4 linked regions of the Homo sapiens genome follow. The protein of the gene in region 2 purifies or fractionates together with the protein of the main gene of each other region. This does not show direct contact. Each region holds a gene or a part of one and is shown on either strand. Other genes may lie near its edges.

Region 1 (7,340 bases), on a different chromosome or scaffold from region 2:
GAGAGCAACCCAGACCCTAGGATGCCCCTAGCTGAGGGGACACTGGCAGAGGGCTGGGGCACAGGTATCCCAGCCCTGTCTCTCCTTTCTCTGGGAGGCTGAGGCAGGAGGACTGCTTGAAGCCAGGAGTTTGAAACCAGCCTGGGCAACACAGCAAGACCCCATCTCTACAAAAAATTTTAAACATTAGGCAGGCATGGTGGCGTGCACACATAGTCCCAGGCACTTGGGAAGCTGAGACAGAAGGATTGTTTGAGCCCAGGAGTTGGAGGCTGCTGTGAATTATGATTGTGACACTGCACTCCTGCCTGGGTGACAGAGTGAGACCACATCACTACAAAAAATAAAAATAAAACGAACCCCCCCCCCCAAATATTTCATGACTGTTGGCTTAAAGACAAACAATCCAGGCTGCATTCATCATTATAATATTCACTTTTTTCTTATTTTAAGACATTCACGGACCCCTGGCACTGTGCCTACTGGACAAGCTGGTGCCGCCCATGCTGCCCATGTGTCCGTCTCTGACTGCCTGGGAGACTGTGGGTAGGTCACTGCACCTCTCTGGCCTACCTCTACTGCACAACACAGCTGAGGGTCCACATGACACCACGCCTAGCCCAAGGTGAGCGCAGCAAACAGGGCTGTGACTACCCTCCTCCTGGAATGGCAACCTTAAGCCCCACACATAGTCCCGGGCCACACCTCCTCCCCATCCTCAGGGTTTCACAATTGGGCTCCCACAGCCCATTCTATGACCGCCCAGTCCTGGAACACTGATCCCTAGACTCCGTCCCTGTCTCCCAGCACCCCCTCCTTCCCTTGGCCTACCTTTGACCTCTTTCTTGTCACTGTCCCTCTCAGATAAAACCTCCCTGGGCCACAGCCCCTTGGTGCCCACAGGGCCCTGCAGGGCCTGCACTCCACATCGCCCAAATCTGGCTCTCCACTTGCTCAGAGTCCTGTCCCCACCAGCCCCCATCCAGGGCAGCAGGGACCTTTCCAGGTCCTGGGCTCGCCACCACCATCCATGCTTGGCTGCCCCACAGCCCACTCTGTTCTCCAAAGGGTCCCTGCGGGGGCCTGGCCTCTCCAGAAAGGTGTCAGATGGGGAGCGCCCAGGGCCCACGCACACAGGGTCACTGAGCTACCTGGGTACCTCTCCCTGGAAGGAGAGCCCTAGGGACTGCTCAGTCCATCCCACTGCTCCTCGGGTTGGGGAGGGAGGCAGGACACCTGTCCCCGCCTAGCACACAGGTTCCTGAATGTTGGCCCTGGCTAGGAAGGTGCCCAGAGGAGCGTGCCCCTGGGCGCTGACAGGATGGATGCCGGCCAGCTGGACTACATGGGTGCTAGCCGGAGCCACTTGGCTGAGAATGTTGGGGTCAGGAGGCAGCCGTCCTGCCTGGTGCCCCTGGGGGTGACATGGAGTTGAGACATGGGAAATACCTGGTGCCACTCAACAGCCCTAGATGCCAACCGGCTTGGGAGAAGCTGTCCCAACATTTCTTTGTTGGGGCACCGTCCTCATGGTTGACATATGGGGCTGGTTAGGGCACACCGCTCTGGTTGTGCCAGGGGCAGATCGAGGCCAACCACATGGGGGTGAGGTGTAGGCCTGTCTGGCTGGGCCGAGGAGCCCACTCACCATTGCCAGCCTGTCTGTAGGGGCGGTGTCTGACCATACAGGGCAGGGGGAACAACCCTGCTGATGTTGTTTGAGGGTACTTCCCGACACTGGGGGGACACTCTAGAAAGGACCCCCACTGTCCCTTTGGATTTCAGTGTCCAGGCTCCAGGCTGTGTGTAATGGGGGCAGGGACCATCCAGACAGTGGAAGCCCCCGTGGCCAGGAGCCCTCCCAGCAGACATGCCTCGTCCTCACAGGGTGATGCCCAGACCTCCAACTGCTTCATTCCTCACGTCGTCTCCTTTCATGGGTACGTGTCTCCTGGGCTATGGACGGGGCTGCAGCCACTCCCGAGCCCAAGATGGAGCACCCCAGTGGCCTGCATGCCCACACATTTGCCTACCAAACGTCTGCCCAAGGGAGGGAGGGCGCGGAACCCACCCATGGGCAATGACTCAGCACGAATCCACTCTTCTGCTTGCTGACCCCTGACCTCTGACTCGAAGTCAGGGCCCTCAGCTGGCCTTCAAGGACCCCATCCTCTCCACCCTGGCAGGAAGTGGGGTTCCTGAGTATCTGGAAGGAGGACCCCATGGAAGGATCTGGAGTTCCTACACAAAGTGGGGTGAACCTGTGCCAAGTTCCGATGGGCGCAGGAGGGCGCGGAGGCTCTAGGCGGCGGAAAGGTGGGGTGCGGAGGACGGGGCTCACAGACCGGAAGTCGCTCAGTGATAACTTGCGGAGTGGGCACCCCAGCCCCCAACGGGGTCAGTGCACCCTACGAGCTCGCGGCTGCGGCCGCTGGGTGCCCTATCCGCCCACCCCAGCCCAGGAACGTGGGCGCGAGGGGCAGCACTCCCATCACTCGCCCTGCTCGCCACGCGGGGATCCAGGCCGCACCCTGGCCACCCCAGTCCACGGCGGCCCGGGCGGATGTCCCCAGGGAAGGGTCCAGGCCGTGCCCAGCACCCAGACTCCAGCTAGGCCGCGAGGGCGGGAGCGAGTCGGGACGGCCGGGCAGGCTCGACCCGGATCCCGGGCCCCTTCCCCCTCGGCTCTTTTCGGGCCGGCGTCGTGCGGGGGCGCTCGCGTCCATATCCGCACAGCGGCGCCCCCTGTCCGAGCAGCCCCGCCACCCCGGCCCCGCGCACGCGGCCGCGCTCCACTCCCACCGCCCCTCTCTGGGTCGCGCGGCCCCGGCCCAGGTGTGGGCGCAAGGGTAGCCCAAGTGGGACCGCGCCAAGGGGCGCCCGCCCCCCGCCTCGCCCCGCCCCGCTCGGGCCGGGGGAGGGGGGCCCTACCTGGCCAGGTGCGCGGGGTCTCGGCACAGGGGCAGCAGGAGCCGACCGCCGCCCAGCGGCCTCGCGGTCCGGTCGGTCCGGCAGCCACTCCCTGCCGCGGCCCGCCCGGCCTGATTCACGCGCCCGCCCCCGCCCCGCCCGTCGCTCCTGCCTCCTGCCTGCCCGGGCAGCACCTGGGGGCGGGGCAGCCCCACCCGCGGCGCGCCCGCATTCCTGCGCCCCGCGCCCGCCGCCAGCCCCAGCCCGCGCCCCCGGCCCGCGCCCCGACCCGCCCGTGCCCTGCGGCCGCGCGCCCGGAGACCCCGGCCCAGCGCCGCCGGAGACCGTGAGGCCCGCACTTCAAAGACCCCGACCCCCGGGAGCCCAACTGTTGACCCAAGGCTCAAAGTTCCCAGCCTGACCCCTGACCCTCGCCCCGGAAGTCGGGGTGACTCGGAAGTTCCGGCTCAGTCGCTAGGAAACGAGCGAGCCCGACGCCAGGGGCGGAGCTCTGGCCTCCTCGCCGAGTTGGGGGAGGCAGGTGCGACAGGTGAGGACGGTGGGGCGGCGTCGAGCCCCGGGCGGGGCCGGGTCTGGGAGCCCCGAGAGCACAGGGGATCCCCTCACCACACACCGGTCTCCCACCGCACCAGCGCCCCACACGTAGACGAGGACCCCGCCCACACAGAGGACCCCCAGACCCCAACCCCCACCACACACACTGATGCCCACAAGTACCTGGGGTCCCCCATCTTTCTCCCTCACCCCCTCACACCGATGCCCACACTTGTAGGGGACTCTGCCGCAGTGACCCCCCCATGCACATGCGGACCCCGAATGACCTGTGCCTCATGTACACCAACCCCCAAGCACAGGAGACTCCTCAGGAAGACAGAAGCCACAAGCACACCGAGTCCTGCCCATGCCAGTCACCCACGAACACGCTGACATCCGCACACCTAGGGAACCCCACCTGCATATGAGATTTCTCAGACACCAACCCCACACACAAACAGGGGATGCCATATTCACACTGACTCTGAGAGCACAGGGGACCTCCCTCACATACGGAACCCTGTGTACACACAGGGACTCTGCAAAAACCAAGCCCCAACGGACAAGGGACCCAGTGTGCACACCAAGCCTCATACCAGACGCCCCCCCATGTACACAGCAACCCCCACACACCACCCCGAGCTGCCCCTGGGTGCTCCAGTCCCCCAGGTCCCCCTCAGGCCCTCACTTAGGGCCCCTCCCCCTCTTAGGCCCTGCCCTACACTGGATCATCTGTCCAAACCACCACCCCTCGCCCCTGCCACTCCCACCCCAAGGACTGGCCCTGCCTCAACCCTTTCTGATGGTCATCAGTCGCCTTTCTCTTTGTTCCTCTTGCCATGTGATCCTATTTTCTGTTTTCAGGGTCAGTCCCAGTTTCATTTGTTCTTTCCCCAAACACTCAGTGCCACCCCACTGGTACCAGCATGCTGGAAACATGGGTGGGGGGTCAGACCAGTGCCCAGGCAACTGTGCTGCAGCGGGTGAGGGGCATGGGGCACCGGGGAGGACCCGGACAGGCTGGGGCAGGCAGGAGGAGCCTCCCAGGGAAATGAACTTGGGGGTCAGCTGTGTGGACTAGGGAGAGGGGTGTTGCTCCAGGGCCTGACACCACCATCTGCCAGAGCCGGGACCACATAAGGTCTGAGGGTGTGGAGGGGTGAGTGCCTTGGGTGGGCTGGGGAGCAGGCTCAGGGGTGGGCTGGCTTCCCAGGGCAGTGGAGAGGCATGGAGGCTTCAGCAGAGAGGGCCATGCTCATGATTACGGTGAGAACAAAGACCGGCCCACTGGCAACCCAGCAGCTTGGGGCAGGGAGAAGAGTGCTAGACTCCAGATCCTGCGCCCGGCAGGATGGGCTGAGCCTGGGGCGGAGGGGCAGGCAAGCCACGGCCAGGGGGACGGGAGGTGGCCAAGTGCTCTTGCCAGGCATCCCGGCTCAAGCTTCTGGGCACACACCCGGGGCGGGCAGGCAGACAGGACACCAGCTGGGAAGCCTCAGGGGAGCCCATGTTCCTGCTGTCATCCACTCAGGCGCCCATGGTGTGCCCTGTTCCCCACTGCCACTGCCCCTGCCCTCTGCCACTCTGAGCACCCTCTCCCTGGTCCTTCCCTACCCACCCCCCAGGAGAATGGACAGTAAGAAGGGGAGACCCAAAGCTGCAGCTGGGAAGTGGCAGACGCTCCACCCTGGGCCCAAGACAAGAGCTGCTGCTGGTAAGTGCACCCTCTGACCTCCAGAGCACTGTCACCCAGACACTGACCTGTGAGACCTTCTATGTAGCCACCGAGAGACACCCCCTCTGAGGAGAGCCCTTCTTCCAAGAGTGGCTTTTAGGGGACCTCTGAGTTGGGATTAGGTGTGATTGACTGAGGGTTCAGAGCCCATTCATTCATCTCAGACCTTGAGCCTGAATCTATTTTTTTTTTTTTTTTTGAGACGGAGTCTCGCTCTTGTCACCCAGTCGAGTGCAATGGCGCAATCCCTCCTCACTGCAACCTCCGCCTCCTGGGTCCAAGTGAGTCTTGTGCTTCAGCCTCCCGAGTAGCTGGGATTATGGACGTGCGCCACCACGCCCTGCTGATTTTTGTATTTTTGTTTTAGTAGAGACGGGGTTTCGCCACATTGACCAGGCTGGTCTTGAATTCCTGACCTCAGGTGATCCGCCCGCCTCGGCCTCTCAAAGTGCTGGGATTACAGGCTTGAGCCACATGCCCGGCCAAGCCTGAATCTTATACCCCTGGGGTTGGGGTGGGGGCCTAGGGGTAGCACTCAGAGAAGCCCAGCTTTGGAACACATGGAGGTGGGAAGGGGGCAGGAGCCAGTGGGAGGCGCCTAGATGGCCAAAAATGGGTTTTGAAACAGGAGGGTTTGAGTCCAAGTTGGGGATTCTCAGTCTAAGCATGTGTTCTCTGACTCTCTGCTCCATCTGGGCCATCCTGTGCTGCCCTCTGCCTGCGGCTTTGCTCCCAGTCACCTTCTCCATAGTCACTTCCAGGTTGGATGGTGACAGCTCACCTGGGCTGGGTTTTCCTGTGGGTCAGGAAGGAGACTTCCCCCAGTACCCTCCCCCACCCCAGCCCCGCCTTCACTGTTGTCACTCCCTTGCTCCAGCTCCCATTTATTCTCTATGCTGGCTGTGAACACATTCCAGGTTGCAAATCTGGGGTCCTTCAGCACCCAGGCCTGCACTGGGGTCTGTGCTTGCTAAGAGAGCACCCCATCCTGCTCCCCAGACTGCCCCTCTGCTTAGAGTGGGCCTGGCCTAACACCCCTGGTTGCCAGAGAGCTCCCAGATTCACAGGAGCAGGTGGGATGATGGTGACCGCTCCTCCACGCCAGGCTGGGGTTAGATCCTAGTTCCCCAAAATAGCCCCAGCTGCGTCTGAGGCCAGCCGCCCTCCTGGAATGAGGATAATGGGCACAGGTGCCGCATGCTGCTTCCGCAATCTCTAGCCCTGAGTACACTGCACTCCAATAAACGGGGGGCAGGGCAGGTGGACCAGCAAGGCAGCCAGGAAACTGGGTTGCAGGGGTGGGGGCTGTGCTCTTCAGTTCTGCTACCTACTGACTGCACACCCAGGCCTTCGCCCTGCACCGCAGCCCATACACTGCCCTGGACGGCTCTGGCCCAGCATGCCTGGGTCTGCTGCAGGGACACCTCTGTCCCTGAACAAGTATCTGCCCTCAGTGCCCATTTCCACCAAGCATTGGGCCAGCCTGGGCAGGCTTGCTGTCCCTTGGTCTTGCAGTGCCCTGTGTGGCGGGCACCGGCTTCACTTGGCAGATGTGAAGATGGGCCCACAGATACCCTGCATCCAGCCTGGCTTCCTGGGCCTCCACAGGCATCCCTAGGTTGCTGCAGTGGCCACCGCACCAACACAACAGTCCGGGACCCCTCCCGCCACCCCATCCAGGCCTTACCTGGCCTTGGGTCTGCAGTGCTTCGAAGCCCTCACTCCGGAGCTGCTCCAGGGCCACGGCCAGCTGCAGCCCCTCCACGTGTACCCAGGCCTGCTCCTCCTGTAGCTGCTGCAGCCACAGCTGCTCCTCCTGTAGCTGCTGCAGCCATAGCTGCTCCTCCCGCCACAGCTGCATCTGCAGCTGGACCTGCCGCCACCGGTCCTCCAGCAGCAGCTGCTCCTGGGCCAGGCACAGCTGGACCTCATGGAGCCTCAGCAGTTCGGGGCCCAGGGCCGGCATGGGGTCCCCTGCTCCACAGCCTTCCATGTGCCCAGCAAGGACCAGCACCAGCTCAGACCCCGGAGCAGTGGCCGGCACCGGTCTCGAGGCTGCCTGTGGCTGCTCTGGCCTGGCCACCCTGGGGTGTCCCTGAGGTGCTGGCTCGATGCTGGTCACGTGCCCTGTAGGGGCCAC
Region 2 (7,030 bases):
AGTCTCTCCCCACTGAGGAGGTGTACCCCCACCCCCACCTCCAGGCAGCCCCTCAAGCTGAGGGAAGGCCTGTGTGATTCCAGTGACTCTAAGATGTCCCTGTCTGTAGCTAAGAATGTTGCCCAGGGAGGCAAACCTGCTACCTAAGTAGATGGCCAATGAGGGTTCTCTCGCAGGACTCCCTCCTCGCCCACAGGCAGGAGGACGAGGGCAGGGCTCCCACCCACCTCTGCCAGGCCACCTGCCCTGGGCAACTACAGATTCCCCCTTCCCAAGTGTCCCCATCCAAACATAGCCCCAAAGAGGATGGGACCTCACTGCCCCTACACCCCATGCTCTTGCCAATGCTCACAGGGGCTCCTGGGGGCTCCCTGATGTCAGGGAGCAGCAACACCTCATCTCTGAGCCCCTGCTGCCCACCCTGGCTGGGCCCCTGGCAGCGAGGACTGGAGCCCAGCTGTGCCACTTGCCAGGGAATGTTACTGCCCTGAGCCTTGGTGAATGACTTTGCTCAAGAGGGCTCATCAGACCTCAGAGGATTAAATGAGGCCAAGTCCTGGCTCTACAGAAGGGGTTCACTCCAAGGCAAGCAGCGTCGATGGAAAGGGAAGAACAGAGCCACGGCCTGACCTCCCACTGGGGGGTCTCTAACTCAGTTCTGAGGCCCAGAGGGACTGGCAGGGGGGCAGCTCACCTGTGAGGCTGGGATCCGGGAGACCTCTTGCCGCCCAGTGAGGTCTGAGGAGGAGACGTTGGCGGGCGCACCCCTGTGCAGCCTCATACTCACCTTCCTCTCCCGGTCGACCCGCGAGATCGCTCTGGGAGAAGTATTGCCTGGAGGGAGAGTGGGAAGCCACCCTCAGAGTAGGCACAAACAGAGCCCCCCACCCACCCTGAACCCAGCCCACTGCCTGAGTCCCTGCTCACCAGCCGGCTGGATGCGGGAGGCTGGCGTGGAAGCCACGGGCTCGGCGGCACTGCGGAGCCGGTTGGCAGTGGCCCCCGTGGGTGGGCCAGGGGGCAGGGCTCGGGTCGCGGACCCCCGTAGCTGCCCCATCCTCTCCTCGCGTTCGTGTTCTCGCCGCTCCCGGTCCACATCCTCGGGATTCCGGGCTGCACCCTGCAGGGATGCAAGAAAAGACACCAGTCAGCCCCAGAGGCCAGGGTGCTCTGGGCCCAGCAGCCCTGCAGGGCACAGAAGGGGAGGGAGGCCAGGTGGATATCTCAGAAACCTTCTGCTCCAGCCTCCCTGACAAGCGCGGGAAGCCAAGACCCACAATCACACAGCACAGAGACACGAAGCCACACAACCACCAGAGGAAGGAGAAAGCAGGAGTCTGGGGGCAGAGGGAGGTCAGTCTGCCCTGCTCTCCTGGGATGGAGCCAGAGAAAGGACAACTAATGCGCCCAGGATGATCAAGAGCACCTCTTGGCCCTCCTGACCTGGGGCTGGGCCTGCCCTGGCCCCCCTCTGTGTACCAAGAGCCCTTAACTACTCAAGGTTGCTAAACCGAGCAGGAAAGCTGTTTAGAGGCCTCTAGCAGACTGGCTAGGGGTGTCCAGAGGGGGAAAAGAACAGGCCCAGAGTCACAAAACTAGTGGAAGGCTGGGCTAGGACTCAGACCAGCTCTCCCGGTACCTAGCCAGGGGCTCTTCTCATCAGGGAGCTGTCCTTCCCCCTGCCGGGACCTGGCAATGGCTTCTGGCAGGTGCAGTGGAGGCCACAGCCAGGAGGCCCAGGGAACCCACAGACACCGCCTGCCTTGGGACAGAAGCTCAAGGGGAGCTGGAGAAGAAAATGGGGCCACGTTCCCCACGGAGGAAGAAGAGGCCCAGCAGGCAAAGCTGGAGCAGAAGGGGTACCCTAAGCCCCCAGGTGCCCTGCTGTCCAGCCACTGCCGCCCCTGGTGCAGGAGGAAGTGAGAAGGGGCCAGAGAAGAGCATATGTGGGGGCAGCGCCCGACTGCGTTACCTAGTTCATCCTGGGGCCGTCCACAGGGAAGGGCAGGGGGCTGGCAGGAAGGGGGCCGCATCTGTGGAGGAGAGAGCTCTGGGCTGAGTTGGGGGCCTGCTCATGGGCACAGGGTGTGGTTCCTGCAACCCATGTCTCTCCCAGGAGACTGGCCAAGAGGTGGGGGTGGGCCCTGTCTTTAAGCAACTCCAGGAAGTAGTGGCTAGGACCAGAATGATCCCTGAATCTTAGTGAGGCACCAAGGCCCAGAGAGGCCTTGTGACCTGCCCGGGGTTGCACAGCTCAGGGCAGAGCTAGGGTCTGAACCCAGGCCTCTGCCACCTAGTCCCACTCTGCTCTCTGCACCCCAAGAGGTCACTGTTCAGAGTCTTGCCTTAGAACACTCTAGAAGATGCATCTTCCCATCCTCCCACCCAGAAGCCTCTCAGGCAGGCCTGGGACCACCGGGGCTCTAACTCCTGACCTCCGGTCCTCACCCTGGGCTCCCACTCGGTTGCAGGCTGGCCAACAGTGACTCAGCCAGAGCCACAGCAAAGCCTGGGGAGGAACACGAGCTGTGGCACCTCCGTGCCGAACCTTCTGCGGGCAGAGTCACATCAACCCTGTGAGGCAGGTCAATCTCATTTCCATGCTTGGGATACAGAGGCTGAGTGACTCACTCCAAGGTGTGGAGCCCTGCAGCCAGCAGCCAAGCAGAGGGCTGGAGCCCCTGCCCTTTGTGAGCCCAGCAGGCTCAGGCCATTGCCAGCCCCGAGGCAAGAAGTGGGCGACTCTCCATGGTCCCATCCAACCCATAGGACGCAAGAAACACACAGCAGGGAGCTCTCTTGGCCTTTATTGCCCATAGAAAACATAAAAGGTCAGCAAAGTCACACGAGCATCCACCCGTCATCATATGGACCTCTGTCCTTGGCTGTGTTGAATTCCTTCCCGGCCAGCTGACTGGACCTCGGAACACAGTGGCTGTATGTGCTGAGAGTGGCTTCCAGGCCCCAGGGATCCACAGATCCCAGCACCCCGGTGCAGCCAACAACACAGGGTGTCCTGTCTACTGTTGGGTAGCATGGGAAGGGCCTGGCCTCAGGGTGAAGGTTCCCATTGCATGTTTTCCAGGTGCTTCTGCCAGGGGACTGCTGGAGGTGGTTCAGCTCACTACAGTGGCCGTGGCATTGAGTCAGAGATTGGCAAAGGATAAGGCTGTGGGTGCCTCTGCCCAGCTTCTAACTCCAGGGCCTGCCTCAAGAGGGACTTCCAGGAAGGCGGTCAGACCAGCAGCAGTGGGTGGAGAGGTGCTCCTGGCCTGGTTGGAAAAGAGATCTTGCTGGCTAGACAGTCTTGTGAGACTCCATAAGGGAGGAACCTAGAGCAGTGATGTCCACAGAACGTTCTGGATGAAGGAAATGGTCCCATCTGCCTTGCCGGATGTGGTGGCCACTGGAGGGCAGTGGCATGATCTCAGCTCACTCCAATCTCTGCCTCCTGGGTTCAAGCGATTCTCCTGCCTCAGCCTCCCAAGCAGCTGGGATTACAGGAACACACCACCATGCCCAGCTAATTTTTGTGTTTTTAGTAGAAATGGGTTTCACCATGTTGGCCAGGCTGGTCTTAAACTCCTGACCTCAAGTCATCCGCCCTCTATGGCCTCCCAAAGTGCTGGGATTACAGGCATGAGCCACCAGGCCTGGCCGACATTTCCAGTCTTGATTAATTTTAATTCATTAAAAATGTGTCGCATGTGGCCAATGGCTACCATCTTGGACAGTGTCCGTCTAGAGAATACAAAATCCATTCTTGCAGTTGTGCTGAGCTGGAGGGCCAAGCCCATCACGAACCAGACGTGGGAGTGACTATCTCGATAAGAAAGTGCCCAGTGCCCAATGCCCTGTGGTGGAAAGAGCTGGTCCCAGGTGCTCAAGGCCATGGGCCCCATTTGGAGCCAGAAGGTCTAGGGTGAAGTCAGAGAAGACGTCCCCTGCCCATATCCCATTTCCAGCCTTGCTGAAAAGGGCAACAGAGGCCTCTCCCTGAGGTCCCTAGCCTGCGAGACCCCCATTCTCTGCCTGACCTCTGTGTTACTCCTTAGTGAACAAGAAACCCAGAGAGAAGAGAAGCCCAAGACCAATGTGCCGACCTTGGCTTCCAGGAGAACAGAGCCTTGGTCCTAACCATCTAGCAGGGTGGCTGAGGGCCCTGCCATGAAAGAGGCACACCAGGATGAAGCAAGAGGAGGTGTTTAATGAGTTCTGGTTCAACACAGAGGCCGCCAACGGGGTCTAGCTATGAGTCTGTCCTGGGACCCGTTCCCACCAGGCCCCTTGTGGGCAGTGGCCACCATCCCTCCCTCAGGCTGTCCTGGCCCTCAAGGACCCCATGGCAGGGCCTTTTCCACCATGGCCTCCACTGTGCTGCCATCTCTTGGGAACAGGGGGTCATCCCATCCTCCCAAGAAACACTTCCTCAGGCCTGGCCCCGATGGGCTCAGGCACACCTGGCGACATCAGAAATGGGGCCCTGGAGTCCAGACCACAGGCCAGTAGTTTTGGGGGGACAGCTCCTCCACCTCCTCCACCGGCCTATCTGGGGGGCTCTGGGTGCCCAGGGGAGCCGGGCACCTGAAAGGGACAAAAAGCACAGCTGAGGCTCAGCCTCTTGCGCTCACTGGTCAAGTGGCAAATTTTGGAAAAGCCAGACCTCAGAGGATCCTTACCAGTACGTGGGTGAGTACGTGGGCCCAGCACAGGGACAGGGGCGGGGACAGAAAGGTCCCTTCGCTGTCATGGGGCTGTCACGGGGCTGAGCCTGGCTCGAGGAAGCCCCCTTTTCCAGAAGAGATGTGAAACAAGACATACAATTTCACAGATTCCAGAGCTCTGGGTACGGCCGGCCAATGCTGCTCCCCACCCAACCCCACCCCTGGGACTCTTAAAAGAGGGAAACAGAACAACTGCCTAGCCAGACCCAGGGGCCCATGACCAAGAAGAAAGCAAGCACCATGACTGGGTCCAGGCTGGCCCGAGGGGCCATGGTGCAGGTAGCCACCTGGGATGTGCAGAACAGGAGCAGCAGGACGGTGTAGGCAGCAATCAGGGCAGCAGGGGGCGCCGCCAGCACCACCCATGCCCTGCTGCGGGCACCCAGGAGGGACCCCAGGTGAAGCCAGATCCTCCTTGTTCCGACGGGAGACAGCGCCCTGCCTGGGCCCTGCTGCCCATGGTGGCACAAGCTGTCAGCACGGATGAGGCTGGAGGGCTCTGGGACCCCAGTGAGGTCAACCACACTGTCCAGCTCGTACCTCCCGTCTGTCGGGAGCCCCTCCCGCCACCAGCTCACTCTGGCCCTCTGAGTCAGGGCCTTCCCCATCCAGTCCCCCAAGCCCGCCTTGGCCTCCAGGTGACTCACGAATTTCAGCATGTTCCAGTCAAAGACGTAGTCATAGGAGAAGCCCTGCCGGTGGAAGAGGTTGCGGAAGAGCTGACGTAGGTAAGAGTAGTCGGGCTTGTCGTCAAACCGCAGGGAGCGGCAGAAGTTGAGGTATGTTGAGAATTCGGCTGGAGGGTGTTGCAGAGGATAGAGAAGGCCACTGTGAGGCCCACGCTCCCAGACCCCCTGCAGCCAGCACTGTCCTAGCCACCCACTGTCCCTAGATACTTCCAATCTGTGAGAGGCAAGAAAAGGAGGCAACAGAGCCATGGCCTTCCCTATCCTACTGTGATGAAAGCCTAGCCTGCCCGTGAGCAGAGCCTCTGCTGCTTTCAGAGCAAGGGAAGACCTGCGAACAGTGGCCAGGAGCCTCTGCCAGGTAGCCGGATCCAGGAGCCATCCATGCCCACAGCTCTTCCGCTGCCCTCGCCAAGCACCCTGGGGCCCACAGATCAATCGTTGCCATAAATTCAAAGGACTGCAAGAGCCTGACGGGACCTTCTAACACAACCTAAGCAAGAAGAGGAAAACTTCCAATTCCTCCTCAAAAACACTGGGGAGAGGGCCCTTGGGAGATGAGGCAGGAATGTAGGCCGGGAAGCAACAGGTGTAACAGCCAGGACAGGGAAACCGGGCCTTCTGGCTGTGCCAAGGAGTGGCAAAGAGCCAGGGATTACTGCTCAGGTGCCAAGGGCTGTGGGGCAGCCCAGTGTGGGCTTTGTTGTTGTTGTTTTTGAGATGATGTCTCGCTCTGTCACCCAGACTGGAGTGCAATGGTGCAATCTCGGCTCACTGCAACCTCCGCTTCCCAGGTTCAAGCAATTCTCCTGCCTCAGCCTCCTGAGTAGCTGGGATTACAGGTGGGGCTAATTTTTGTATTTTTAGTAGAGACAGGGTTTCACCATGTTACTCAGGCTGGTCTCGACCTCCTGACCTCATGATCCACCTGCCTTGGCCTCCCAAAGTGCCAGGACTGCAGGCGTGAACCACCGCGCCTAGCCCCAGCGTGGGCTTTGTATGGCCTCACCTTTCCCTTAGACAGTGCCTCAGGGGCCCCCAGGCATGTCCCCTCCCACTGGGCTACTCACAGGGATAGCCTTTGCAGAGGACCTCGATGGGCGTTGACATCTTCTTCTCGCTGATCCGTTCATACTTCTGGCGCTTGGTGGCTGCTTTGAGCCCCTGCCAGGGCAGGGAGCCCAGGTTGAAGTACATGAGCACGTAGCCCAGGCTCTCCAGGTCATCTCGACGGCTTTGCTCTGCACAGAGAGTCAAAGACTAGGTGAGGGACAGGGGTCCACTCAGGCCCCTAACTCATCCTCTGGGTCATGCTCCTCACAATGCACCAGGACCCTCCTGCCCCCACGTCGGATGTTGCTCACTGCACGCATTTTAAACAGGCACTGCTATTATCCTCCTCCTACAGAGAAGAAGCCTGAGGCAGGGCCTTCTCAACTTAATTTGGGCCTAGTTTTTCCAGTTCAGGCACTTAATCATTCAATGACTATGAGAGGGCACCTACTGCCCCCTTGCCTGGCCCACCCCGTGGAGAGGTCACAAGCTTCAGCATCAGACAGGGCCGGGGTCAAGTCCAGCTTTGGCATTAGCTAAGCTGCATGACCTTAAGCAACCCATGTT
Region 3 (7,224 bases), on a different chromosome or scaffold from region 2:
GCAGGAGAATGGCATGAACCCGGTAGGCAGAGCTTGCAGTGAGCTGAGATCGCGCCACTGCACTCCAGCCTGGGCGACAGCCTGAGACTCCATCTCAGAAAAAAAAAAAAAAAATCCACCTCCATGATTTAAAGAAAACCAGCAAACAGTAAAATTTCTTTTCTCAGGCTTACATTAGAGCTTACAGAGCTGCAATCCCTTGGAAGTGGGGAGGTGCCTTAATACAAAAATTTAAAGGCCAACATATTCACTTTTCTTTCTTCTTCCGATTATTTTGTTCATTCCCCATTACCCTGAATGAAATATCTATGGTCTATTCTTTCAAAATGACTACTCTGGGCAGGACGCGGTGGCTCACATCAGTAATCCCAGCACTTTGGGAGTCCGAGGCAGGCAGATCACCTGAGGTCAGGACTTTGAGACCAGCCTGACCAACATGGTGAAACCTTGCCTCTACTAAAAATATAAAAATTATCCAGGCGTGGTGGCTGGTGTCTGTAGTCCCAGCTACTCAGGAAGCTGAGGCACAAGAATCGCTTGAACCCAGGAAGCTGAGGTCGCAGTGAGCGGAGATCATGCCACTGCACTCCAGCCTAGGCAACAGAGCCAGACTCCGTCTCAAAACAAAACAAAACAAAAGACTACCCTGATCCCATCCAAATTTTTTATCTCCCTGATTATGAAATTCTCTTTCGTCTACACTGTCATCCTGTCTGCCTTCAATGATTCAAATGTTCTTCTAAAGAACCAGATTGCCATTTATGAACTCCTTTTTAAGGAGGGAGTCATGGTGGCCAAGAAGGATGTCCACATGCCTAAGCACCCAGAGCTGGCAGACAAGAACGTGCCCAACCTTCATGTCATGAAGGCCATGCAGTCTCTCAAGTCTCAAGGCTACATGAAGGAACAGTTTGCCTGGAGACATTTCTACTGGTACCTTACCAATGAGGGTATCCAGTATCTCCGGGATTACCTTCATCTGCCCCCCGGAGACTGTACCTGCTACCCTACGCCATAGCTGTCCAGAGACCGGCAGGCCTCAGCCTAAAGGTCTGGAGGGTGAGTGACCTGCGAGACTCACAAGAGGGGAAGCTGACAGACATACCTACAGATGGAGTGCTGACAGACATACCTACAGATGGAGTGCTGTGCCACTTAGTGCCGACAAGAAAGCTGAGGCTGGGGCTGGGTCAGCAGCCAAATTCCAGTTGAGACGGATTTGGTCGTGGACGTGGTCAGCCACCTCAGTAAAATTGGAGAGGATTCTTTTGCATTGAATAAACTTACAACCAAAAAAAAAAAAACAACAGTTCTTCTAAGTAGACTTATAAATCCAAAAAACCTTATTTCTATTTCAGGAGTTTTTTTGTTTTGTTTTGTTTTTTGAGACGGAGTCTCGCTCTGTTGCCAGGCTGGAGTGCAGTGGCGTGATCTTGGCTCACTGCAATATCCACCTCCCGGGCTCAAGTGATTCTCTTGCCTCAGCCTCCCAAGTAGCTGGGATTACAGGCATGGGCCACCACACCCAACTAATTTTTGTATTTTTAGTAGAGATGGGGTTTCACCATGTTGGCCAGGATGGTCTCGATCTCTTGACCTCAATGATCCGCCCGCCTCGGCCTCCCAAATTATTTCAGGAGTTCTTAATCTTTTTGTGCACGGACCTCATTGGCAGTTTGGTGAAGCCTATGGTCCCTTTCTCAGATTTCTTTTAAGTGCATAATTAAATACATGTGATTACAAGGGAAACCAATTATATGGAAATATTAGCAAAACAACAAACTAATATGGTCATAATATATGTACAGCCTTATTATCACATTAAATAACAATGTCTAACGGCGGGTCTAGTAACACCAGAAATTCAAAGAAGTGTTAACCATAAATGATATTCTGAGCTATCTGCAACTGTAAACATGATGCAAAAATATCCGTAATTTTTATTGATCACAAAGTCATAGGCGCTGCTAATGCTACTCTGGCTTGTTGTCCACATTCGTAACTGAAGGAAATAATAAGTTTCAGTTAGCAGTCAATAAAAATAATGATGTCATTTTATCCTCCTTCTAGTGAAAGGACCCTTCTAATTCTATCCATCAATGAACTCCAGTTTAAAACCCCTCTCTAGTTCAAAGTCCTGCTCAGAACTGATTTTCGTCATAAATTTAAAAATAAAAACACTGATTCCTCCTTTGACCTAGTTCTCATCTGAACCTATCACTATGTCTCCCTGTTTTTATGCACATTTATACACAGAACCCTGGGTGTACTTCTGTGGTTTGCCTAGCCAGCACTCACTACAATTTTGCCAGTCAATAAAAGGTGAAGTTAAAAGAAAAGGGATGGAAACAACCAACAGCTCCCTCACTTTCAGACCTCCGACAGCAAGTGGAAAGATGCCAAGTACAGTGAGTGTCTGTGTTAGGTGGGCTGCCCCCAGACCCGTGTGTCCAGCTTGTCAAGCTTCCCTGCAGCACGATATCTTTATCAGCGACACTCAGAAGACATTCCATTTCGTTCTCGCCTCCTATACTCAGTTCCCTACCTGCCGGGCCTCTCGTCTCTGGCCCCCACCCGAGGCCGCCCCGCGGTCCTCCTGTCCCTTCCCATCCCATCCCCCACGCGTCTCTCCCTCTCCTCAGCCCCAGGCCGCCCTGGCTCCTGCGCGCCGCCACATCTCTCCCCTGGGTCTAACCCAGTGTCCCCCGACCCCCACCTCGCCCGACACTGACGGGAAGAGCCCAGGACCCCGGGGTCAGTTGGACCTGACGGCCGGGCAGTCAGAGACAGGCTGCGGCCCTAGGCCGGAGCAACCCGGCCGCGAGGCAGGGAGCCGCTCACAGCCCGCGGACTAAATCGGGACGCGTACTCACCAAGGGGGTCATGCGGGGGAGGACACGGAGGACTCTGTCGGACCGCCACTCGGCCTCGGAGCCGTCGCCCTAGCCGGTGACTGCCCCCGCCGCCGCTGCCGCCACCTTCGCCACTCGCCTGTTGGCTTCCCTGCGTCCTGCAGCGGCGCTGCCGCCACGCCAGCGCGCGTGCGCAGCGCCGCGGGGGCCTCTGGGAGCTGTAGTTCCGCCCGGGCGGCTAGGGGCTCCCACTTCCGCCTTAGGCAGCCCTAGGTCAGCTGCCCCCTGAGGCTGTCGTGGGTGTCCGGGTCCGGAATCGTCTTCCGGAAGGCTGTTCACCAGGCCTGGGCCCTGGTTTCCGCCTGCAGTAATGCTGGACGTGAAGAATCCGACTGAGCAAGTATGTGTAAAGCAAAAATGTAGAGCGTTTTATGCTTTCTGTGACAACGCTCAGTTGCCCAGGACACATTATTCGCATGAATGACTCTCTCTCTTCTCTGTTTCTCTCTCACACGTACGCACACACTACTTACAAACCTCCCTTCCCTTTTTTTTTTTTTTTCGAGACGGAGTCTGGCTCTGTCGCCCAGGCTGGAGTGCAGTGGCTCAATCTCGGCTCACTGCAAGCTCCGCCTCCCGGGTTCACGCCATTCTCCCGCCTCAGCCTCCCAAGTAGCTGGAACTACAAGCGCCCGCCACCACGCCCGGCTAATTTTTTGATTTTTAGTAGAGACGAGGTTTCACCGTGTTAGCCAGGATGGTCTCGATCTCCTGACCTCGTGATCCGCCCGCCTCGGCCTCCCAAAGTGCTGGGATTACAGGCGTGAGCCACCGCTGCCGGCCCCTCCCTTCCCTTTTGTTCTAAGTGCCATTAATTGGTTTGGATGGTATCTGGATTTTCAGTGTAAAACCTGCCTTCCCACTTCTCAGTTTCTAAAATCTTGCTTATCATAAACTTCACCATGCAGTTATTTTAGGTAAGTCAATAAATGAACTGTCTAATAATTTTTGTAACACCATAACTCATATATTCAGAGGTCAAGTTAGCTGAGTTGAACAGTCTAGAAACCTTAAAATTGGAAGATACCTGCTTAAAGGTCACTAGTGCAACTGTTGCCCAGGCAGGAATTCCCTCCTGTACATTCAGCCAGATGGTCATCTTCCTGTTCAACAGTTCAAATTTCAGGGAGCTCACTCCCTCAAGTAATGCAGCCTGCTCCACTGTTGGACAGCTCTAAATGTTAGAAAGTTCTGCCTCCTGCTGAGCTGAAATCTGTTTCCCTTTATTTCCTTCCATTGCTGGTAGTTAGGCTGCCTGGAGCAATACAGAATGTCTTCCACTTGACAGATCTTCAAAAAATTGAGAACAATGATTATATCCTCCAATACTGGGAGTCTCCAGGCAAAAAAAGGAAAAAAGTAATAATCATTTCCCCAGCTATTTCAAATGTCAATCAACTCCCAAACTGCTTTCTATCTACTCACCTCTCTTGATGTCACCTTTAGGGGCATGGTGGCATATGCCTATAATCCTAGCACTTTGCGAGGCCAAGGCAGGAGGATTGCTTGAGCCCAGAAGTTCAAGACCAGCCTGAGCAACATAGTGAAACCCCAACTCTACAAAAAATACAAAAATCAGCGAGGCATGGTGGCTTGCACCTGTAGTCCCAGCTACTAGGGAGGCTGAAGTGGGAGGATCACCAAGCCCAAAAAGGTCAAGGCTGCAGTGAGCTGTGATCATGCCACTGAACTCCATCCTGGGCAGCAGAGTGAAACCTGTCTCAAAACAAAACAGCAACAACAACATTGACAGAATTGCTTCATATTTATTGCCTTGTTTTATGACTACATAGGTAGTAATAGAACCACCTATGGTAGGCTGGTCAGATGTTATTGCTATCGTGCTGCCATTCAACTCATTCAGGAATTCAATCAGCTCTGTTACAAGACATTACTCAATGCACCGCTGGCATGAAATAAGCAAGAGGAGGCCGGGCGCAGTGGCTCACGCCTGTAATCCCAGCACTTTGGGAGGCCGAGGTGGGCGGATCATGAGGTCAGGAGATCGAGACCATCCTGGCTAACACGGTAGAAACCTGTCTCTACTAAAAATACAAAAAATTAGCCGGGCATGGTGGCAGGCGCCTGTAGTCCCAGCTACACGGGAGGCTGAGGCAGGAGAATGGCGTGAACCCGGGAGACGGAGCTTGCAGTGAGTGGAGATCGTGCCACTGCACTCCAGCCTGGGCGACAGAGCGAGACTCTGTCTCAAGAAAAAAAAAAAAAGAAAAGAAATAAGCAAGAGGATACAATTTACAATCTAGGGTAGGATGAAACTGCCACAGATTAAGGATCATCATAATAAGCCAAGGTACAAAGCATTCTGAGATTCTCAGAGAGAATGGCCTTTTCAAGTTGAGGGTTCATGACCTTATGGAAGAGGTGACAGTTAGGAGTTACTGGATGGCTGGATTTCAAGACAAGAGATGGCATTCGTGGACTGCTAAGGAAGAACTCAGCCTTAGCAAAACCACATTCACAGTGGGCTCTGGAACACTGCGTCTGGGTAGGCTGGAGCACCCAGGCCAGGGAGGAAGGGAAGGAGAGGCCCCAAAAGTTGCAAAAGAATCTTCAGGGAAGCTGCATTGCATGTGAGAAGTAAAAAAGGAACTAGAATGGTCAGTTAATCTTCTGAGCCCTGTTCTGTCACCTACAAATGAAGAACTTGAACTAACAAGCAATTTTCTTTTTTTTTTCCAGTCAGCACACTCAAGGAATTCAAATCTCCTGCTAGAACTATGGATCACTACAACAGTGATTCTTGGGAAATATGGAATAGGTATTATTTTCATCCCTTTTACAAATGGGAAAGTAAACTCAAGAGGTGAAAATTTGCTCAAAATCAATAAGTAGTACTCACTGAGGGCAGATCACTGTCTCCCTAGAACCTGGCATACTGCCTAGAATGTAATGTTTGTTTTTTGTTTTTTAAATGAATGGATGAATACACAGTAAACTCTGTCCAAAGCCCCTTTCTTTCCATACACAACTCAGTCTTCCCTGACATAGAAGGATATGAAGTTACTTGTTCATGGTCACAAAATTCATACTGGACCTTGTGTAGAGTTTAGTTCTTCAGCCTCCCAACTCCATACTCTATTAAACTACTCTGCCTTAGAATCGCAAAACATTTTTTTTAATGTTCTTTTTCCTTCTATGTGTACACAGCCAGTCTTAGAAGTAAGCCAAGAAAGCAGATGCTATGGCCAAGTGATTTAAGGGGCCTCTGGCAAGTATTTCTGGACAAAAAAACACTTTATCCCCAGGTCCCTCAAAGGCCCCCAAACTTCATCACTTATATTGAATCACAAATGTTAACTTGAGGTGAAAATTTAAACCAACACATAGTCCCTGAGGGCGCAGACTCCATCTTATTCACCACTGGGCGTACTGCCTAGAATGTAATAATTTGTCTACATTTTTATTTTAGAAATAGGTCTTGCTATGTTGCCCAGGCTAGAATGCAGTAACTATTCACAGGTGCTATCGTGAGGGCTCAAGGGATCCTCATGCCTCAGCTTCCTGAGTACCTGGGACCACAGGCTTGCACCGCTGTGCTGGGCTCGCCTGTTTGTTTTTTGTTTTGTTTTGTTTTGTTTTGTTTGAGATGGAGTCTCACTCTGTTGCCCAGGCTGGAGTGCAGTGGAATGATCTCAACTCACTGCAACCTCCACCTCCTGGGATCAAGCAGTTCTCATGCCTAATCCTCAGCTGGGATTACAGGTGCACGCCACCATGCCTGGCTAATTTTTCTTTTTCTTTTTCTTTTTTGAGACAGAGTTTCGCTCTTATTGCCCAGGCTGGAGTACAATGGCACGATCTCGGCTTACCACAACCTCCGCCTCCCAGGTTCAAGCAATTCTCATGCCTCAGCCTCCCGAACAGCTGGGATTACAGTTCGGGCCACCATGCCCGGCTAATTTTTTTTTTTTTTTTTATGGAGTTTCGCTCTTGTTGCCCAGGCTGGAGTGCCATGGCGCGATATCAGCTCACCATAACCTCCGCCTCCCAGGTTCAAGTGATTCTCCTGCCTCAACCTCCAGAGTAGCTGAGACTACAAGCGCACGCCACCATCCCTGGCTAATTTTTGTATTTTTAGTTCAGACAGGGTTTCACTATGTTGGCCAGGCTGGTCTTGAACTCCTGACCTCGTGATCTGCCCGCCTCGGCCTCCCAAAGTGCTGGGATTACAGGTGTGAGCTACTGCGCCAGCAAATTTTGTATTTTTAGTAGAGACGGGGTTTCTCCATGTTGGTCAGGCTGGTCTCGAACTCCCAACCTCAGGTGATCTGCCCACCTCAGCCTCCCAAAG
Region 4 (7,000 bases), on a different chromosome or scaffold from region 2:
CTTGCATCTGGGTAATTAATTCTGCCTCTCACAGTATTTCACTCTGTGTGTATACCTGTAAAATTTATTGGGATTTATTTCTAGCTTTTTGTCCAAACTTGTCATATTAATTTTGAATTCTTGATGTTTTACTGCATAAATTAGTTGACAGGCCATGTGTGCCAACTTGCATCCAGGAATGGGATGAGCAGCATCAGAACTTCACCACCAGAGTCACTGGGTAATTAAGTAGATAGCACTGGGCCTGATCCCATCGCTACCCTGCAGTTCAGAATGCCCCTCTTATAACAGGGGCAGCATGGTAGTACTTCATCAGCTGTACTCTAACCCAGCAACGATAGAGTGGAAAATCATACTTTCCTTAATGTTTTGTTAATTTTGGGAGCCCTCCACACCACTGACTGCTGCATTTTAGAATAATATATAGAAGACATGGAAATCATGAATATGAATTACTCTCTAGAATCGGTGCAGCAATAGATTTTGGTGTATTAGAAAGAATCCTTTACCACAGTAGCCTCAATGCCAAACGTTTTCAACTCAGCCCAGAGCTGAAGGCATTAATGAATTCTAATAGCAAGGCAGCATACCCTCCAGTGGGATTCTAATTGACAAAGAGATAGAAAACTGAAACAAGAAGGCCAGCGTGTCCTTTGGGGAGCTGGCACACAGCACCGGCCACAGTGCATCAGGCTCCAGGCCAAAGAAAAGTGAGCCCAGCAGTGAGTGCTATTGCCCTGTCTAAGCTAAAAGCAGGTGTTCTTGGCTGGGCTGTCAGGGGTCTGCAAACCCCCTGCCACTGAAAGCACAATTATAGATGTATGTATGTTTTCCAGCAAGCAGGATACTCAGCTTTTATCTGATACTCAAAAATATCCCTGAAATATAGAGGGCCAAGAAGCTCTGTTTGCTCGATGAACAATTATCCAAACTTCAAAATGGATAAAATAGGTTGTTGGAAATTAATACAACAACAATACTCAAAGAAAAGAGAATTAGCATCTATCCATCGCTGATTGTGTATCAGAGATTCTTGGAGACATTTAATCCTCACAATAACCTAATTTTAAGATAGAAAGAGAAAGGATTCAAACTCAGGTCTTCCTGAAAGCCCACATACTTCCTACTCCACACTGCCTCTCTAAAGAATGAAAGCGATTAACCATTGGATATTAATAAAAAATAAAGATAAGCAATCTAAAACAATAGGGAGATAGGATTTGATATTCAAAAATTTGATTTTTTAAAACTTAGGAGCTTATTGTTGAGCAAAGTTGAGAGATTTAAACCCAACTGACATTTATTCTATAGGATGACCCAGGGTACAGCTTCAAGAAGGGGTGGTTCCTTCAGAGCAAAAGCCTTTCAAGAAACTGAAGAAGTTGTAAATGGAACAGTTGTGAGGTCCAGCCTTACTGTTCAGTTTCTCATGAATATGATCATGTGTGTATGAACAAAAAGATTTAATTCCTCTTTTGTATCTCTGTACCAGTTGATGACAGTCATTTGTACATAATATATTACATTAGGTAAATTCTTCTGTATTTTACTTTGTCTCTGAAGTATTAGTTCTTTTCTCCCAAGCTTTTAAAACAGAGCTTAGGAAATATTCCTGCCCACATAACTAAATGCTTAACTAACTCTCAATGCTGCCTTCTCTAAAACTATAAATCCCAAAGTACATATTGGTCATTGTTTTATGGAAAATATTATTTGAGAATATTCGGTGAAAATTTAGCAAAGTAAATTCATGCAAATTTCTGGAGTTTTCTGTAGTGCTTTTGCCAGTATATCTTACGTAAAGCAATGTGATCATCTGTTTGGAGAACTCTGTTTGGGGAAGCTGAGCAGGATTAATTCCCGTCCCTGTGTTGCAGTGTAAATAGCTTTTTTCCTGTCTTTTGTCATTAATGATCATGCCGTAGATGTAGCCAGTGCATTGTAAGCCGATCTGTCAAGGCAAATAAACAATTCACCTTGTTAAAATTCCCTAAATCTTGCATTAATAAACCTAAGTAACCCCCTGAACACTCAAGAGATGTCTTCCTCCATACTGCGGTGATGGATGACACGTCTAAAGATCCTGGAAATTAAGTAGTTCAGGTCATTAAAAGTGTCCCACACTTGTTATTGATTTAATTTATTTTAAGAAGGTGGGGGTGGAGATAAGAATGTTATACCCTCCCCTCTTTTTTTAAATCTGAAAGCAACCACTTGTACAGATAATTAAAACTATTGCCTGGGGTAACAAGTCTGCATGTGTTACAAATTAGGCTTTATTATTCAAATAAGTATTGTATCATCCTCTTAAACAGATATCTAGAAAAAAAAACAATCATTGAAACATGTGTCATAGCCAAAATACCTCGGAGTTTTATATGTGTGATGACGCCTAGAACTTTTTGAGTTACAGGCACTGAAATAATGACCTCTGGGCACCTAAAAAATGTCCTTGAATAGGTAAAAACTGAGATGAAAGTGAAATGATTTAAGGAAATTTAATTGAAATAGTAATGAAATTATGCCTCTGGATAAAGGAGGTTTTTTTTTTCTTTTTATTTTCTGAACTTTTTATTTTTCTATTTTTATAACCAGGAGAAAGTAAACACATACACACACATGGATGGAGAGAGGGACAGAGGGATGGACGGATGAATGCATTGGTAGATGGGAAAACGCTTAGAGAGTGATACGCTATTTCGATTCTATCTCACTATATTCTAAGGCAAGTTTAAGTTGTTGTTTAGTGTGTGTGTTTACTTGTTCATTGCTAGCTTTCTTCAGCCCATGCTCCACTGGACCTGTAAGATTTATCATCATGTCCCAGTGCCTAACATAATAGATGCCCAGGAAATTATTATTTAGTGAATAAAGTATAACACCCCAATTTTTTCTTCTATCTTTTATTCCTTAAGCTTCCATGGGAATGGTGAGCTGTGTAAAGAACCGTAGCAGCCCCCAGTGGAAGTGGCTCTTTAGATGACCCCTCTCCAGGGACTGAACACCAGGAGGGTTCTGCTCTAGTGTGGGACAGAGGGCAGCCTAGGAGGACTGGCAACCTGTATAGTTACCCACTTCATTTGTATGACCTGAACTGGGTAACAGTATTACAAAACCTGATGAGGAATTGGGGCCACTCAGTATGTGAACCATGGCTAAGAACAAGATGTGATATAGAACTATGTATCTACAAGGTACATAATTTCACCTCACTTTTGTTACTTGTTATGTATCTTATGCACCACCCTTACACAGTATTCCTGATCAGTTGTGTGAGTGATATTTCACCACTGATTCTCATAGTTCTTTAAACAACATGTACTTACTGGACAAAATTTACCCATGATAAGTTATGAAAAATGACCCTTAAGAATAGTTGTATTGAAGTCAGAGATTATGATAAAACCTTTGATGCTTTTCTCCTGTGGTCTTTTAGAAGAGGGGGAGGGGGAGGGGGAGGTGGCAAACTTATATTCAGTTCACACACTCTGGTAGACTTTAAAAATACATAGATAAGAAGATACATACTTCTTTGTCAGATTTCTCCTTGACATTGCATAATCTGGATCTCTGATTACTGACATGGTTATGCCATCATGCCAGCTATGTAGCAGAGCTCACTAAATGGAAGAACTCTATAGATTTTTTTTTCAGCATGTACACTGATTTACACTTAGCAGTAAAGTTGTTACTGACCCTTTAAGTGGAGCTGTCCAAATGGCAATAAATGTCAGTTGATTCTAATGCCAAAACAGGTGATAGTTGAGGGTTCTTGACTAAATCTTCCAGTTAAAAAATAATTTATCATATTTCCTAAATAGTAGTGGTCTCCTGTGGGGAGATACACACACACACACACACACACATGTATACATAATGTATATCAGACCACTTTATCACTCAGTAAAGAAAATTTGATATACATATCTTAACAGTATTATTGATGTTGCCAGGTTTTGAAATATTCACTCTGGATTAGAATCTCCATGAAGGCAAGAACCATTTCTACCTGGCTCCCCACTGTCTTGTCCCCTAGTCAGCATCTAGTGTATAGTAGGTGCTCTATAAATGCCAGTTGAATGAAAGAACAGATAAACTGCAGGATTTGCCGGCAATCCCTAGCATGTGTGTCAGCCCGAATTCCTGGTGGGCAAAACAGAGACCACTCCTCATCTTGACTGTGAGGAATGTTGCTGGTAAGAACTTTGATGGACGGTTATGACTTTTTGAAATAGTTCATTTGATTGATCACCTAGCAAACTTCACTTCAGTTTCGAATTCTGTTTTCTGCTTTCACAGGCTGTCATTTTAGAAAATGAAGAACTTCCCAAACTGTTTCTTGATTTCCTAAATGTGCGACACTTGCCCTCTCTACCAAAGGCAGAAAGTTGTGGGTAAGAATCATGTTTGCATATTGGATGTGTATTTTAAATTACTCTTCAATGACCAATTGATCTAACAAATAGCCCAGAGTGATGCCCGAGTAGCCTGCCGGCCACGCCCACTCTTTTGGCTTGCTGCAGCACTCGCTCGCCCCCTGCTTTTGGTTAAAAGAATTCCTCTGAGTCCTTATGCCCATCTTGCGGCCAAATGGCCATGGTTCGGTAACCCATGTTTAGACTCAAGGAATCAATCTTTTCAATTACACTGTTACATAGAATGATGTTACTTGATGGGAATTATGAATCTAATTAACTTGTTATGGGCTCATTTATTAGTGGAAACTCGAACAAAATTCATATCCTGGTGGTACACATTCATATAATTTTAAAGTTATGAATGATCTTAGAGATGATTTGATGCAACTCCTCTCATTTTGTAGTTGAGCAAACAGAGACACAGGAATTTAATGACTTTCCCAAGATCTCTTGCCTTGTAGCTTGCAGAACCGAGGCCTTCCAAGGCAAGCCCTCTTCCTCTACTGTCCAGCTGCCTCTCTCAGGAACTTCCAGTGGCAGGACTACAAATCCTAATCCCTATCTATTGGTCTAAACCCATTGGTCCTAACCCAAGGACCCAGAGGTTTGATATCATCAGCAATTAGGAAAAGCTCTCCCGAAGAATTAACTCTGAAATAAGCCACTGGCCCAGCAACAGCACATGACATGGGCTGAGCTAGCCTCAGAAGGCCTTCAGGAACATCCATGGCATACTGTATCCATTTACAGGGGAAAAAATCATCACAAACTCTCTGAAAATCCATGCAGGAGAGAGGTTTACCCATTTTCTTGCTGCCTGAAGGAACCACACTTAACTACAAGAAAATCAAGCAGGCCACACCCAAAGTCATGTTAAACCCCAGCCATCTGCTGGATGATGGGGCTGCAAACACCTGTCACAGCTCCTCATGAGCACTGTTTACTCAGAGCCACTTTCCACTTATTGCATAACAAAAATTATACACTTGGCAAATACTGTGTTGTCAGTGTGTTCTGTTCCAACTTGTATGTATTTACGGGCAGGTTAGGCTTCATATATGTTTATGTATTTTTTAGAATAGACATTAGCAATGGCAGTGAGCGAAATGTTTTCTCCATTATACAAGCCCAAAAGTAGTAATAAAACCTGAGGATTTTTAAGTAATCTTAAGAGAAATCAAAGAATATTCCAGTCTTCAGATTCCTTAGAATGGGGCATAGCCATGCTGTGGCTCAGTGGAAACTCACAGCTCTTTTAAAAAATAACTACCAATTCAGTCATCTAATAATATTGGGTATTTTTTCCTTTGTTGGCATAAACATTGACTCAACATATGTGGTTTTTTTGTTTTTTTCCTTTTTCAAAACTTTTAGATCTTTTGATGAAACAGAGTCTGAAGAGTCAAGGTAAGGACTAATCCTCATCAGCCAGGAATAGGATTATGGTTTTGCTAAATGTTTAATCACCTACGATGTGTTTCAAGTTATGTTTTTCTTAAGAACCTTTGTTTGGAAATTGGTTTTAAGATTATAAATATTTGATAGGGAATTACAGGAGTAACCAGTTAGAATTAAGAGTGGAGGAATAAGAGCCCTACATTGTTTCATGCAAGTAATCAGAATGTTTTATCAACAATCGTATTACAAGATTTTTAGGAAATCACGTTTCAGCAATGATTTATTGTATAGATTGTATATTTGCTTCAAATTCCACAAAGAAATGTTTAGAAGATGAGAGCAGTGCCCATTTGTTCACTCTTACTCTGCGTGCTATTATTCACCCACACTGTTAGAACATAAACCTTGAGACGTCCCCGCACAGCAGTTTGATCCCCTCAAAGCTAGTTTGTAGTGTTTTCTGTTTACCATCGTCCCCTGATGCTGACATGCCTGTTCTTGACCTTTCCAGCAAACTGTCCCACCAGCCTGTGCTGCTGTTCCTCAGGGATCCATATGTCTTGCCTGCAGCCAGCGGTAATCAAACCTGTCATCTGCTAACAGCTCTTTACTGATCTGACCCTGCACCACATAAACCACGTTTTTAATACAGGTCTAACAGAGTGACATTGGTCCCGGGCTTAATAATCTGCCAATAAACCAGTGCTCTTGGTATAAGCGACACTTAGAATTTTAATTGGGGCTGGCCTTTCAGGAGGAAATGTAATTTTTCTTTCTCTCTTACCAGACTATTTTGAATTAGAGTAATAAGGAAGAATGGTATTTATGGTCCTTAATTTTTCTGATCATGTCATTTTGGCCTCTGCTTGTTTTTGTCCAGATGCCAAGGTTCAAATTCAAGGCTCTAGTCCTTTTTAAAAATGCCTCTTCCCGGCCAGGCATTTTTAAAATCCCAGCACTTTGGGAGGCCAAGGCGGGTGGATCATGAGGTCAGGAGATGGAAACCATCCTGGCTAACACGGTGAAACCCCGTCTCTACTAAAAATACAAAAAATTAGCCGGGCGTGGTGGCCGGCGCCTATAATCCCAGCTACTCGGGAAGCTGAGGCAGGAGAATGGCGTGAACCCGGGAGGCGGAGCTTGCAGTGAGCCGAGATCGCGCCACTGCACTCCAGCCTGGGCGA

Evidence for each region.
Region 1: the proteins of CSNK1E (region 2) and FAM83H purify together in Homo sapiens (affinity purification with mass spectrometry; 6 studies listed by BioGRID and IntAct, with this or other methods). This does not show direct contact.
Region 3: the proteins of CSNK1E (region 2) and GAPVD1 purify together in Homo sapiens (affinity purification with mass spectrometry; 6 studies listed by BioGRID and IntAct, with this or other methods). This does not show direct contact.
Region 4: the proteins of CSNK1E (region 2) and SNX24 purify together in Homo sapiens (affinity purification with mass spectrometry; 5 studies listed by BioGRID and IntAct, with this or other methods). This does not show direct contact.

The regions. Positions count from the first base shown.
Region 1 is NC_000008.11:143,730,760-143,738,099, forward strand, and holds the start of FAM83H (protein FAM83H), read right to left. Parts: upstream 3,021-7,340; 5' UTR 2,932-3,020; intron 2,395-2,931; exon of another isoform or gene 2,324-2,394; intron 1-2,323. Other genes in the region: IQANK1 (IQ motif and ankyrin repeat domain-containing protein 1), read left to right, coding at 5,095-5,179. UniProt on the Homo sapiens protein: May play a major role in the structural organization and calcification of developing enamel. May play a role in keratin cytoskeleton disassembly by recruiting CSNK1A1 to keratin filaments. Thereby, it may regulate epithelial cell migration.
Region 2 is NC_000022.11:38,293,415-38,300,444, forward strand, and holds part of CSNK1E (casein kinase I), read right to left. Parts: intron 6,652-7,030; coding exon 6,481-6,651; intron 5,521-6,480; coding exon 5,372-5,520; intron 1,121-5,371; coding exon 928-1,120; intron 835-927; coding exon 695-834; intron 1-694. Other genes in the region: TPTEP2-CSNK1E (casein kinase I), read right to left, coding at 695-834, 928-1,120, 5,372-5,520, 6,481-6,651.
Region 3 is NC_000009.12:125,257,609-125,264,832, reverse strand, and holds the start of GAPVD1 (GTPase-activating protein and VPS9 domain-containing protein 1), read right to left. Parts: upstream 3,008-7,224; 5' UTR 2,874-3,007; exon of another isoform or gene 2,873-2,873; intron 1,298-2,872; exon of another isoform or gene 732-1,297; intron 1-731. UniProt on the Homo sapiens protein: Acts both as a GTPase-activating protein (GAP) and a guanine nucleotide exchange factor (GEF), and participates in various processes such as endocytosis, insulin receptor internalization or LC2A4/GLUT4 trafficking.
Region 4 is NC_000005.10:122,995,613-123,002,612, forward strand, and holds part of SNX24 (sorting nexin-24), read left to right. Parts: intron 1-2,595; exon of another isoform or gene 2,596-2,725; intron 2,726-4,299; coding exon 4,300-4,394; intron 4,395-5,792; coding exon 5,793-5,825; intron 5,826-6,327; coding exon 6,328-6,392; intron 6,393-7,000. UniProt on the Homo sapiens protein: May be involved in several stages of intracellular trafficking.